4 linked regions of the Homo sapiens genome follow. The protein of the gene in region 1 purifies or fractionates together with the protein of each later gene. This does not show direct contact. Each region holds a gene or a part of one and is shown in the gene's direction. Other genes may lie near its edges.

The links. Proteins that work in one complex are often made in the same cells at the same time.
Region 2: the proteins of SERINC2 (region 1) and HS2ST1 purify together in Homo sapiens (affinity purification with mass spectrometry; one large-scale study listed by BioGRID and IntAct). This does not show direct contact.
Region 3: the proteins of SERINC2 (region 1) and RABL3 purify together in Homo sapiens (affinity purification with mass spectrometry; one large-scale study listed by BioGRID and IntAct). This does not show direct contact.
Region 4: the proteins of SERINC2 (region 1) and NIN purify together in Homo sapiens (affinity purification with mass spectrometry; one large-scale study listed by BioGRID and IntAct). This does not show direct contact.

Annotation. Positions count from the first base shown.
Region 1 is NC_000001.11:31,419,713-31,423,212, forward strand, and holds part of SERINC2 (serine incorporator 2), read left to right. Parts: intron 1-3,500. UniProt on the Homo sapiens protein: Non-ATP-dependent, non-specific lipid transporter for phosphatidylserine, phosphatidylcholine, and phosphatidylethanolamine. Functions as a scramblase that flips lipids in both directions across the membrane.
Region 2 is NC_000001.11:87,071,635-87,075,134, forward strand, and holds part of HS2ST1 (heparan sulfate 2-O-sulfotransferase 1), read left to right. Parts: intron 1-1,299; coding exon 1,300-1,538; intron 1,539-3,500. UniProt on the Homo sapiens protein: Catalyzes the transfer of a sulfo group from 3'-phospho-5'-adenylyl sulfate (PAPS) to the 2-OH position of iduronic acid (IdoA) or glucuronic acid (GlcA) within the heparan sulfate (HS) chain and participates in HS biosynthesis.
Region 3 is NC_000003.12:120,732,517-120,736,016, reverse strand, and holds part of RABL3 (rab-like protein 3), read left to right. Parts: intron 1-3,500. UniProt on the Homo sapiens protein: Required for KRAS signaling regulation and modulation of cell proliferation. Regulator of KRAS prenylation, and probably prenylation of other small GTPases. Required for lymphocyte development and function. Not required for myeloid cell development.
Region 4 is NC_000014.9:50,821,163-50,824,662, reverse strand, and holds part of NIN (ninein), read left to right. Parts: intron 1-1,153; exon of another isoform or gene 1,154-1,481; intron 1,482-2,585; 5' UTR 2,586-2,606; coding exon 2,607-2,789; exon of another isoform or gene 2,790-2,866; intron 2,867-3,500. UniProt on the Homo sapiens protein: Centrosomal protein required in the positioning and anchorage of the microtubule minus-end in epithelial cells. May also act as a centrosome maturation factor.

The DNA of each region.
Region 1 (3,500 bases):
CAGCTACTTGGGAGGCTGAGGTAGGAGGATCGCTTGAGCCCAGGAGGTTGAGGCTTCAGTGAGCTGAGATCACACCACTGCACTCCAGCCTGGGTGACAGAGCCAAATCCTTTCTTGAAACAAAAACCAAGAAACCAAAAAGAAAAATTAGCTGGGCATTGTGGCTGGTGCCTGTGGTCCCAGCTACTCCGGAGGCTGAGGTAGGAGGATTGCTTGAGCCCCGGAGGTGGAGGTTGCAGTGAGCCGAGATGGTACCACTGCACTCTAGCTTGGGTGACAGAACGAGATCCTGTCTCAAAAATTTTTCCCCCTATTATTTTCCTATTATGATCAGTGCCACAATGAATTTCCATGTGTTTGTATATATGTGCACACATCTGCCCTTACTCCAATGGTCTGGCATTTCTGTAGGAAGAGATTTAAATATATATAAAATGACATTTTGGTCAAATGGAAGAGGTTCTTGTAGGAGCCATTCTGGGGTGGGGTGAATGGAGCAAGGTGGACAAACATTTCCAAGGATGCTCTGGAAGCAGTGTGTGTTTTTCTCTTTGACCTGGTCTCTCTGGCTGCTGATCAGGCCCTTGGAAATCCTGAGATTTCAGGCATTAGGAACACCTGGATTTTGATGTTTAAGAACCAGAGCGAACTGAAAGGCCAAGCTCTCTGAAAGCGGAACAGCTTTCTTGTGTCTCAGATGTCTCAAATTGAAATTAAATGGTAACAAGCCAGCATCAGGACCTGACAGGGCACCTGGGCACCTGGCTCCTGAGATCAGTACCCACTGGCCTCCCTTGGTTTTCTGGTATTGGGTTTTTTGTTGTTTGTTTGTTTGTTTTTTCATCACTGGGATGTATTTAAATTAAATAAGATGACCATCAGTGAATTAGCGAGCTGGAACTAGTGTAGTCCTGTAGGCAGAGCCTGGCCCTTGGTGCACACAGATCTGAATTTGCATCCCAGCTCCTCAGCTTACTTGCTGTGTGACCTTGGTCATGCCACTTCTCTGTCTCAGTTTTCCCATTTGAAAATGGAAAGTTACCACACAATTCATAGCATCAGTGAAGCTTAATGTAGATAAAGTGCTTATCACAGTGCCTGGGACTGAGTAACCCTTCGTAAATGGTAGCTGCCACTAATACTACTTGAATCTCAGTGCTGTTATCAACTTGCTGTGTGACCTCTGGTAAGTCTCTTAGTCCCTCTGGTCTCAATTTCCACGTCTGTAAAATGGGACTAATAAGCTGCTCTAACTGATACCCAGAATGTTCTTTATAGCAGGGGTCCCCAACCCCTGGGCCATGGACTAGTATCTATCCATGGCCTGTTAAGAACTGGGCCACACAGCAGGACGTGAACAGCAGGTGAACAAGCATTACCGCCTGAGCTCCGCCTCCTGTCAGATCAGTGGCAGCATTAGATTCTCATAGGAGTGCGAACCCTATTGTGAACTGTGCATGCGAGGGATCCAAGTTGCGTGCTTCTTATGAGAATCTAATTCCTGATGATCAGAGGTGGAACAGTTTCATCCCAAAACCATATCTGCCCCCTGCCAGCACCCCTGCTGCCATCTGTGGAAAAAGTGTCTTCCCTGAAATTGGCTCCTGGTACCAGAAAGGTTTGGGACCACTGCTTTATGGCCTCTAAAACATTTTTCAGGCTTTTCTTATCCTCTCACCCACCAAGGACAGCCATGGATAGGAGGCAGGTCTTGGGGTGGCAGCTGCAAGATGTAACCAGAAGTTGCTGGACAGGTGGACTGTTTCAATTTAGACCATGAGGAATAGTTTCGTTTCCAAAGCATTTTGTTTAGCATCTGTGTGAACGAGAGATAGGCGAGGAGCATTTCTAGTTTGGGGGAGAGTAAGAGGGGAGGCAGATGCCCGCCAGCAGGGTGTGCTGTGTGCCTTGTGACCAGTCCAGAAAGAAAAGCAGAGGTCTCTGAGGAGCAAGGGGCCCCTGCCAGCCTGCTCTTTTCAAAGCTCATCTTTCAATTCCTGACCCTTGGCTCCAGCCCCTCGAGTGGGTGCCCACCGCTCTTAGGATGAAAACCAGTGTCCTGTTCCTGACTGCTGGTGCCTATGTGGTCTGGCCTTGCCAGCCTGTCTGACCTCATACTCACCGCTGACTGTCTGCTCACCAAGCTTTGGCCACGAGGGCCTTCTTAAATTCCTCAAATGCCCAGCCCCTACCCACCCCAGAGCCACCTGTCTAGAACTTTCTTTCCTCCCTTTGGTCTGGCAGTGTCTCCTCATCCCTCTGCTCTCAGCTTATTATTTTATTTTAAAATATTTCTTTTTAAAAGGCCAGGTGCAGTGGCTCACGCCTGTAATCCCAGCACTTTGGGAGGCTGAGGTGGGCAGATTGCTTGAGCCCAGGAGTTTGAGACCAGTCTGGGCAACGTGGTGAAACTCCGTCTCTACAAAAAATACAAAAATTAACCAGGCATGGTGGCGTGTGCTTGTAGTCCCAGCTACTCAGGAGGCTGAGGTGGGAGGATGGCTTGAGCCCAGGAGGCAGAGGTTGTAGTGAGCTGAGATTGCGCCACTGCACTCCAGCCTGGGTGACAGGGCAAGACCCTGTCTCAAAAAAAAAAAAACAAAAAAAGAAGAAAAGAAGAAAACCCTTCTTTTTAAAAGATACGGTCTCGCTATGCTGCCCAGGCTATTCTCTAACTCCTGTGCTCAAGCGATCCTCCTGCCTTGGCCTCCCAAAATGCTGGTATTACAGGTGTGAGCCACTGCACCTGGCCTGCTCTCAGCTTAAAAGTCACTTCTTCAAGGAGGGCTTCCCTGACATGCCACCCTCAATCAAACCTAGGCTGCATTAGCACTTTTCTGGCAGTGGGTACGTGTCCTTCTTAGCGCTTGTCACGATGTGAGTCATGATTTGTTTAGTGTTTTTCCTGCTTGTGTAAGCTCCAGGAAGGCAAGGCCTATGTCTGTTGCTCTCCAGGCTCTTAAATCCCTGGGTGAGGAGTAGGGGCTGTTTGGGGGAAGATAAAGTTTACCAGAGGTATCTGGATGTGGGGCCTGTTTCTTTAAAGGCTGGGCTGTGGACTGGGCTCCCAGGAGGGTGAGTCTCCTTTTCAGGTGTGGCATAGTGTGTCATCACCAGCCCCTGAATGATTTCAGCCAGGCCAGGGGAAGGGCTGACCGCAACTGGGGCAGAGGACCCTGGAGAGGGAAAGGGTTAGACCGCCACCTGCTGTCTAGTGCTGGTATAGCCTCAGAGCCGAAAATCATTCCGTTTATCCAACTGGTGTTTATTCTGCACTTGCTGTTTTCTGAGGTCTTAACATGTGACTGGTACTATGCCAAACACTTCATATTCCTTCAACAGATAGCCTGTAAGCTCCTGCTGTGTGACAGACACTGTTCGAATTTCTAGGAATACCACAATGAACAAAACGCAAAAATTCCTGCCCCGCTGGAAAGCGGAGGCCGACAAAACATAAAGCCTCGCTGATGGCAGAAGTCCCGCGGGGAAAAATTAAGTGG
Region 2 (3,500 bases), about 56 Mb from region 1:
AGAGAATTGCTTGAACCCAGGAGGCAGAGGTTGCAGTGAGCCAAGTTCGAACCACTGTACTCCAGCCTGGGTGACAAAGCGAGACTCTGTCTCCGAAAAAAAAAAAAAAAAAGATGATTTGACCTAGTCAGAGCTATCAGATGCTTCCCTGGGAAGCAATTGAGTTGAAATGTAAAGGTTGGGTGGGGAAATGGAAGATTGTTCAAGATAGGTGAGATAGCTTGCACAAAGACTTGGGGGTTAAGAGAGTACGTGCTATATGTGTAACTATCCCCGTGCAAAGTATTTGCAATCTTGCTAGAGATTTCACGCTCCTCATTTCCTTCTTTCCTCTCCTTTTCTTGCATCCTTATTCATATATATTTATAAAAGAAAAAATATATATTTGAATGTATATTAGAATGTATAGATATTTGAATATATATATTTGAAGCTGAAGTTTGCATTAAATAGAGAATACTAGAAAGCAAAATGTAACTGCTTTTGAAACCACATAGCAGATAGGTAATTTTAGAGGAACCATGAAATTTAAGTGAAAAGCATAGCCATGTGCTAAACATAGTTTCTAATGCAACACCAAAAAGAAAAAGGATTTATGGTAGTATTGTTTCTACCCTTCTAAGTCATATTGTTTCTACTCTTGTTAAGTCATATTAGCATTTATAATCACTTTATAATCACTGTCCTGTTACAGTTTTTTAATTTATAATTTATAATCACTTTATAATCACTGTCCTGCTACATTTTTATAAACCAGAGAATAACTAAATCGGGTAATAAATTTCAAAACCTTTTCTTAAATTATAAGTAATTTCTCTTTTAAGTGCATTTTTATACTGTGAAGTTTAGTATTCCATGCAATCTTTGTGTGTTTGAGAATTAGTTCAGGCTGTAGGAATTCTATTAGAATGTAAAGTGACTTTTGAACTGCACTGAAGTACTCTGTGGTCTGTGCTATTCTGCATTTGTTGACTCTTTATTCCTTTTTGTTCTTGATATACATATGTATTATCCTTCATAAGGAATTCTGAAGCTTTGGTCCTCAAAACATTTCTTCAACAGCTCTTACCTAGTTCTTGAATAGGAAGATTATGTTCCAGGCTGTACAGCTGTTTTAGAATCAACTAGATCCTCTTAGAAACCCAAGCAATTTACCCATGTTTTCCATATCCCTTGGTTCTTTGCTTTTGTTTTTTGTTTTCTTTTTTGTATCTTTTCTAATCATGGTCCAAAGTTCAGTGTTCATAACTTCCTTATAGTGTCCTTAAAAACTTAGTTCGTATCTGTTTTTCTTTCCAGAAAGGGCTATTGCAAGACACGAAGTCCGAGAAATTGAGCAGCGACATACAATGGATGGCCCTCGGCAAGATGCCACTTTAGATGAGGAAGAGGACATGGTGATCATTTATAACAGAGTTCCCAAAACGGCAAGCACTTCATTTACCAATATCGCCTATGACCTGTGTGCAAAGAATAAATACCATGTCCTTCATATCAACACTACCAAAAATAATCCAGTGATGTCATTGCAAGATCAGGTAATTACCACTTAAGGAATGCCCAAATATTTTCTAATACTTCCTCACTCAAATTTTCTAGCTCAAGGGGATAAAGTATTTTAAAGGGATGTGAGTGCTGATCTCAGTGGATCATAAGCCTTTTAGGGGAGAGGGCCAGCTAACTTTTGTATAATTTTACTTGACAGTATTTGACACATTTCCTTGCATATAGTATGTACTCAAATATTTGTGAAGTAAATGAATTAATGAATAGCTTGAATTTTTGAGAAAACTGATGTTCCTGAGCATAGTATCCTTTTAAAAATATAATTTTGGCATGATACCCTGCAATAAAAATTATTGTCTCAACTTATGATGGAGAAATATTTGATGGATACTTGTATTCAATTTTGTGACCAGCCCCTCTTTACTAGATAGAGATAGAGATAGATACAGAGAGAGTTTATATATACATTGCTTATAAATGTATATATAGTTTAGTTGTGGCTTCTTCAACATAATCTTACCTTTTAAATTCTCACGAAGTTTTAGATAAACAGATGAATAAATAATTTTGTGAAATGGTTTTAAGAAAAGTAGAGGAAATTATCTTATGAAATAAAATTTGCTCATCTCTTTAATAGTAGTAGCATACATTTCTCCCACACCTGGAATTTTGACTGCAATTATAAATAAAGTTCTCTCTATAAATATGGAAGGGCATGGGAATTCCACCCCATGAGAAGGAAAGATAATGTTTGCAAATACTACTTAGGATCAAATACCAAATTGGAGTAGGCTTATTAGAAAGATATTTGTGATGGTCCTGTAGTTACAATGATATTTATCTGTTTGAAAGCAGTGAACTTGTTACAGAATTGACTGTCATCTCACTATTTAGCATAACTATAATCCTTACACTTAAACAAGAGAATTACATTGAGACACAAGACTAAGGTTGGCTTTCTTGCTAGAGAGCTGTTTGTAAAGGCTAGTAGTATATGGTATGTCATCTGCCCATGTAATTTTTGGCTCTTTGCAGAATCCTGGAGTACTCTTTTTTGTAGAACCAAAATTCCACATCTGTCGGCCAAACCAAATAACTCTTCTATGAATGAGAAGAAACATGAGTTGTTTTTAGCTATGTGTGTCATAAAAACTATTCATTATGTAATATTGTGTATCTCAAGGACAAGTATCCTAAATATTCTGTTTTTATACAGTGTGTAGTAGGTTTTAAATCTTTTTGCATTACTGCTTTTCAAAATATGCTTTGGTTTAAAAGGAATATGTATTCATGCTTAGATAATAATTTCAGATTTATTCAGTAGTACTTTTTAGAAAAATAATGTTAATTTGTTTGTTCAGCATTACAAAGTCCTGGTAACTGCAAGATGTCTGGCAATGACATCAACCATTATTTTCATGAAATATAAATCTGGAGGAGCTCACCACATATGACATTTATAGGCATCATGTAGTAGTATATTTTCCCAGTTGCATTTGGATGAGATAAAGCTTCTGTTTTTCTTTTAATAACTTGTTGGTTATGTATAGGAAAAAAAAAACAGCAGGAGAGAAGCATAAATGCTATCTTAAAAGCAATTGGATTGCATAATGACCAACACTTAAAAAATGTTTGTGTGGGGCAGCGCAGAAGAATAGTCTTAATCATTAGCTGACATACTTCAAAATTATCAGCTGGTAGTCCAAAACCTGATCTTAATTAAGAGTAACTTACTTAACAAATGTTCTTTATATACCCTATCTCCAGTTTTGTGATCTCTTGTTCTATGTAGACGCAGTTCTTCAAACAAGTTATATTTACTGCTTCCCCTTCTTTTGTGTGACATGTTTTCATGTTTACTTCACTTTTAATCTAGTAAGCTTCATCTAAATGTAAACTAAAAATTGCACTGTATTTCTTAAAAATAATTTTTAAATATTCCCTGAACCCCATCTGATATAACACACTTTTATTTTAATAATATCATATTTTGT
Region 3 (3,500 bases), on another chromosome or scaffold:
ATATACATTCTTCTCAGCACCACATCACACTTATTGCAAAACTGACCACACAGTTGGAATAAAGCAATCCTCAGTAAATGTAAAAGAACAGTAGTTGTAACAAACTGTCTCTCAGACCACAGTGCTGTCAAACTAGAACTCAGGATTGAGAAACTCACTCAAAACCGCTCAACTGCATGGAAACTGAACAACCTACTCCTGAATGACTACTGGGTACATAATGAAATGAAGGCAGAAATGAAGATGTTCTTTGAAACCAATGGGAACAAAGACACAGCATACCAGAATCTCTGGGACACATTTAAAGCAGTGTGTAGAGGGAAATTTATAGCACTAAATGCCCACAAGAGAAAGCAGGAAAGATCTAAAACTGACACCCTAACATCACAATTAAAAGAACTAGAGAAGCAAGAGCAAACACATTCAAAAGCTAGCAGAAGGCAAGAAATAACTAAGATCAGAGCAGAACTGAAGGACATAGAGACACAAAAAACCCTTCAAAAAATCAATGAATCCAGGAGCTGGTTTTTTGAAAAGATCAACAAAATTGATAGACCACTAGCAAGACTAATAAAGAAGACAAGACAGAAGAATCAAACAGACGCAATAAAAAATGATAAAGGGGATATCACCACCGATCCCACAGAAATACAAACTACCATCAGAGAATACTAAAAACACCTCTACGCAAATAAACTAAAAAATCTAGAAGAAATGGATAAATTCCTGGACACATACACCCTCCCAAGACTAAACCAGGAAGAAGTTGAATCTCTGAATAGACCAATAACAGGCTTGGAAATTGAGGCAATAATTAATAGCCTACCAACCAAAAAAAGTCCAGGACCAGATGGATTCAAAGCTGAATTCTACCAGAGGTACAAGGAGGAGCTGGTACCATTCCTTCTGAAACTATTCCAATCAACGGAAAAAGAGGGAACCCTCCCTAACTCATTTTACGAGGCCAGCATCATCCTGATACCAAAGCCTGGCAGAGACACAACAAAAAAAGAGAATTTTAGACCAATATCCCTGATGAACATCAATGCAAAAATCCTCAATAAAATACTGGCAAACCGAATCCAGCAGCACATCAAAAAGCTTATCTACCATGATCAAGTGGGCTTCATCCCTGGGATGCAAGGCTGGTTCAACATGTGCAAATCAATAAATATAATCCAGCATATAAACAGAACCAAAGACAAAAACCACATGATTATCTCAATAGATGCAGAAAAGGTCTTTGACAAAATTCTACAGCCCTTTGTGCTAAAAACTCTCAATAAATTAGGTATTGATGGGACATATCTCAAAATAATAAGAGCTATTTATGGCAAACCCACAGCCAGTATGATACTGAATGGGCAAAAACTGGAAGCATTCACTTTGAAAACTGGCACAAGACAAGGATGCCCTCTCTCACCACTCCTATTCAACATAGTGTTGGAAGTTCTGGCCAGGGCAATCAGGCAGGAGAAGGAAATAAAGGGTATTCAATTAGGAAAAGAGGAAGTCAAATTGTCTCTGTTTGCAGATGACATGATAGTATATCCAGAAAACCCCATCGTCTCAGCCCAAAATCTCCGTAAGCTGATAAGCTACTTCAGCAAAGTCTCAGGATACAAAATCAATGTGCAAAAATCACAAGCATTCTTATACACCAATAACAGACAAACAGCCAAATCATGAGTGAACTCCCCATTCACAATTGCTTCAAAGAGAATAAAATACCTAGGAATCCAACTTACAAGGGATGTGAAGGACCTCTTCAAGGAGAATTACAAACCACTGCTCAACGAAGTAAAAGAGGACACAAATAATTGGAAGAACATTCCATGCTCATGGGTAGGAAGAATCAATATCATGAAAATGGCCATACTGCCCAAGGTAATTTATAGATTCAATGCCATCCCCATCAAGCTACCAATGACCTTATTCACAGAATTGGAAAAAACTAAAGTTCACGTGGAACCAAAAAAGCGCCCACATTTCGAAGACAATCCTAAGCTAAAAGAACAAAGCTGGAGGCATCACGCTACCTGACTTCAAACTACACTACAAGGCTGTAGTAACCAAAACAGCATGGTACTGGTACCAAAACAGAGATATAGACCAATGGAACAGAACAGAGCCCTACACATCTACACATCTACAACCATCTAATCTTTGACAAACCTGAGAAAAACAAGCAATGGGGAAAGGATTCCCTATTTAATAAGTGGTGCTGGGAAAACTGGCTAGCCATATGTAGAAAGCTGAAACTGGATCCCTTCCTTACACCTTATACAAAAATTAATTCAAGATGGATTAAAGACTTAAACGTTAGACCTAAAACCATAAAAACCCTAGAAGAAAACCTAGGCAATACCATTCCGGACATAGGCATGGGCAAGGACTTCATGTCTAAAACACCAAAAGCAATGGCAACAAAAGCCAAAATTGACAAATGGGATCTAATTAAACTAGCTTCTGCACAGCAAAAGAAACTACCATCAGAGTGAACAGGCAACCTACAGAATGGGAGAAAATGTTTGCAATCTACTCATCTGACAAAGGGCTAATATCCAGAATCTACAATGAACTCCAACAAATTTACAAGAAAAAAACAACCCCATCAACACGTGGGCGAAGGACATAAACAGACACTTCTCAAAAGAAGACATTTATGCAGCCAAAAGACACATGAAAAAATGCTCATCATCACTGGCCATCAGAGAAATGCAAATCAAAACCACAATGAGGTACCATTTCACTCCAGTTAGAATGGCGATCATTAAAAAGTCATGAAAAAACAGGTGCTGGAGAGGATGTGGAGAAATAGGAACGCTTCTACACTGTTGGTGGAACTGTAAACTAGTTCATCCATTGTGGAAGAGAGTGGGGCGATTTCTCAAGGATCTAGAGCTAGAAATACCATTTGACCCGGCCATCCCGTTACTGGGTATATACCCAAAGGACTATAAATCATGCTGCTATAAAGACACATGCACACGTATGTTTACTGCAGCACTATTCACAATAGCAAAGACTTGGAACCAACCCAAATGTCCATCAATGATAGACTGGATTAAGAAAATGTGACACATATACACCATGGAATACTATGCAGCCATAAAAAATGATGAGTTCATGTCCTTTGCAGGGACATGGATGAAGCTGGAAACCATCATTCTGAGCAAACTATCGCAAGGACAAAAAACCAAACACCACTTGTTCTCACTCATAGGTGGGAATTGAACAATGAGAACACTTGGACACAGGAAGGGAACATCACACACCAGGGCCTGTTGTGGGGTAGGGGGAGGGGGGAGGGATAGCACTGGGAGACATACCTAGTGTAAATGACGAGTTAATGGGTGCAGCACACCAACATGGTGCATGTATACATATGTAACAAAGCTGCACATTGTGCACATGTACCCTAGAACTTAAAGTATAATAATAAAATAAACAAATAAATAAATAAAATAAAACATATTTCTTTATACAGGGCATTCTTC
Region 4 (3,500 bases), on another chromosome or scaffold:
GCATTTGGGGGAAGATATAAAAGAAATAGGAGCGTGGATCTTACCATTAAAGAACTTTCTGCCAAGTGGGGAGAAAAAAATTCTTGCACATGAAATTACTGATGAACATTTGGGAAATAATATCAACCAGTAAAAATGCCTTCTGTGCCAGATGAGCACTGACAACTTGTCACCATGCGTAACATCTCCTGGATGTTTCAGCGTGAGCATTTGTTCCACAGGGGTGGTGCTTGTCTCCCCTTCAGTCAAGCACAGTGTTTTGAGAAGGAAGGAGATGAAATAAAGAGATAAAGAAAAGAAAGCTGCCATAAAATGAAAGAGGTTTGATTTAGTGAAAATCCAATGACCTCCCAAAGAGTGGGGCATGATAGTATATCAAATTCGACACCGTGGATAAGATCAGGGCTTCTCAGTACATCAGTGTTTTATTCCTCTCTTTCATTGGTTTAAGATGGACAAATCCCCGCCCCTTAAAAATAATTTTTAAAAAGGGAAGTGTTAGAATTCTTTCGCTTTTGAGTTTTTAAACATATATGCAAAATCAAGCAAAAGAAGAGTCTTGCTTTTATGAGGTCGGTCAGATAACAGCCCAGGGGACTGTAAAACTCAGAGTGAGACTAAGAGCTACCGCAACACTGAAAATCCTGGAGCACCTTGGGGATTCTCAGCAGATCTTAGTTGACAATTAACTGGTGGACTCTAAGTGAATCTTGTTAGCGAAGTGTTGGCCTTGTCTAAATTCTTAACTCCTGTGGCTTTGCATAACAACTTGGTGTTTCTTTTCTGAGGCTTTGATGTTTATATAACACTCTCAACTTATTTTGAAAACATTTACATAGTGATTAGTTAACCCAACAGACCAATCCTGGGAAGACAGCCAGAGCCTGCAGCACCTTAGTAACAGAAAAACTGATAATTAGGAGAAGAGACCTGTCCAAGACCAGGAACCTGGACCAAAATTGTGCCATGTTGCTTTACTTTAATGAGTGGCCCCAGTAAAAACTGAGCTGTATGGCAGAGCTGTTCACATTTATCTTCTGTGTCCACCCAGTTCTGCTGAAACCCCTGGCAAGATCGTGGCCCTGTTGTAGCTTGTCATGTTTTGAACAGCTGTCTATGGAAAGAAAGCAAACACAACCTAGAGCAACATTGATTTGTTTTAGAAAGCTCTTTTATTTTCAGTTCTGGCTGTGTTCAACATCTTAGCTTACGTTTTTCATGTTGTAATGATCTGCCGTATGGACGATCACCTCTAAGTTAGAGAGTTCTGTAATTTGGCTTGGATTAAAGATGCTTGGTTAGTGAAAGCTGCTGCTTTTTTTATAGTCAAAGGACTGGTTCTGAGAGCCTTGTTGCAGATGGCTGAGGTCACCGTCCCAAGGGTGTATGTCGTGTTTGGCATCCATTGCATCATGGCGAAGGCATCTTCAGATGTGCAGGTTTCAGGCTTTCATCGGAAAATCCAGCACGTTAAAAATGAACTGTCATGCAAGGAAAAAAAAAAAACCACAGATTTCATTAGTAAAATACGAGCTACCTGGAATTTTATGATGTATATTTTTAACAAAAATGACTCAGTTATTGACGTCTCCAAGTTTTTACTGATCCTAAGGACAGTGGCAAAATGGAAAGCCTGGAGTATGGGTAGGTGAGAGAGACGGAACACAGGTTAACCAGGCATAAAGAGATGAGATGCTTTAGTGAGTGGAGGTTCCCTGAGATGCTGTATGATTCATATAAACCAGTCAGTGGCTCCTTTAAACCTCACTGTCTGAAAGGTTGAAATAGTGTCTTCCCCTTTCTCTAGGCAACTAAGCATTACCTAAAACTCGCTGGGACTAAAGCAAGCTTCTGGGAATATTCTTCCCGTCACACCTCATGTAATTGCACCAGTGAAGTTAATTGAGTTGCTTTTTGAGGAACTCGTGTAAAAGGCATTTAGTTTCATGTAAAACAGGGAGGTGGTTTTGTAGCAGACGTCGTGTTCATTTAGTGCCTCTTGCTGCAGCCCTCCAGTCTAGCTATGATGGGGGCCATCTAAGCTGAATGAAGTAGAACGAATCAGCTTGGCCACGCTGACCGATTGCACCATCGGGGCAGGTTGTCTAAAGCTTGCCAGCTAGCATGGAAGCTCTGACCATGCAGTCTGCTGGCGCTAACAATTAGTTCACTTGAATAGTCTTGCTGTCAAAGTGGCTTTTCACCTTCTTAAAATCCTGGGCTAGAAGAGCTGGGAGAGAACCACCTTCAGCCTTGAGTTTGGCAGTCTGGCTGTCCGCCTGAGAACCAGGCAAGAGAGGAGGGTGTCTTCTACTGTACGTGACCCTCTCATTCTGGTAATTTTGCTCCCAGTGTGATCTGAGCTTATGTATATGCCCCTGATGTGAGTGCATGCAGGAGTGTCACTGGCCAGGGCTGGTCCTACAGAGACTGGGGGTCTTGCTGTGGGGTGCATCAGAAACTGGGTGTTCCCGAGCATTCCCTAGAGACTGGTGGGGTACAGAGAACGGGAATGTGCCAGGTGGTGACCACGGTAGGACTGGAGAGGCTGCCACAACCTGTCCTTGTCTCTGTCTTACACACAGGTGAGCACTGTGGGCTATGGGATGGATGAGGTGGAGCAGGACCAGCATGAGGCCCGACTCAAGGAGCTGTTTGACAGTTTTGACACGACGGGCACAGGGTCCCTGGGGCAGGAGGAACTCACCGACCTTTGCCACATGTTGAGCTTGGAGGAGGTGGCCCCAGTGCTGCAGCAGACATTACTTCAGGACAACCTCTTGGGCAGGGTAAGGTCTGGGGAAGAACGTGGCTATGGGAAGTGGGGTGCGGTTTCTGCCGGGGTGCTGGGGGTGGGGCGGACCACACATGTTGCAACTTGTTTCTAGCATCCTGGCTGTTACATGATAAAAAGAAGAATGTAATGGGTGTGACATCACAGTCCAGTTTGCTAGGGTGACAAGAGCCTGCTTTAATTTGTGCTCTGGAATTATGGTGTACAGTGAGCATCTTAGATAAAGAGGCAATGAAAGGATGTTTTCCAACTTTTTTCTTGTTCTTTGTGGTTTATTTTATTGACTCCACATTCATCACTGGGACAGAAAGGAGGAGGGTGAGATTTCCATTGAAGAGAAAGAAAATGCAGTAAGAAAGCTATTGTTATGACTTTTACTCCCAGTGAAGCTATTTCTTGTGTGGATTATTTCTGGGTGAAGTATTAATTAAACTTTCTACCCAGGAAATAAGACAGCAGGGTAAATAAATACAGTGCAGGTTCATTTAAAACCCAGCACGGCTTGCTTCCAGCAGGGATGTGTGTGTGCACGCCAATGTTAACCTCTGTGTTTGATGACAAATAGTCATGTTATTACCATAGATCAAGTCACAGATGTGAGTAAGAAGTGAGAGAGGGTCTTTTTTTCCTCTTGCCAATGGTGGATATTTGATCTGCCATGACCTGAGATTGCCTTCAATTCTCCTCATTATAATTAATAGCTTTT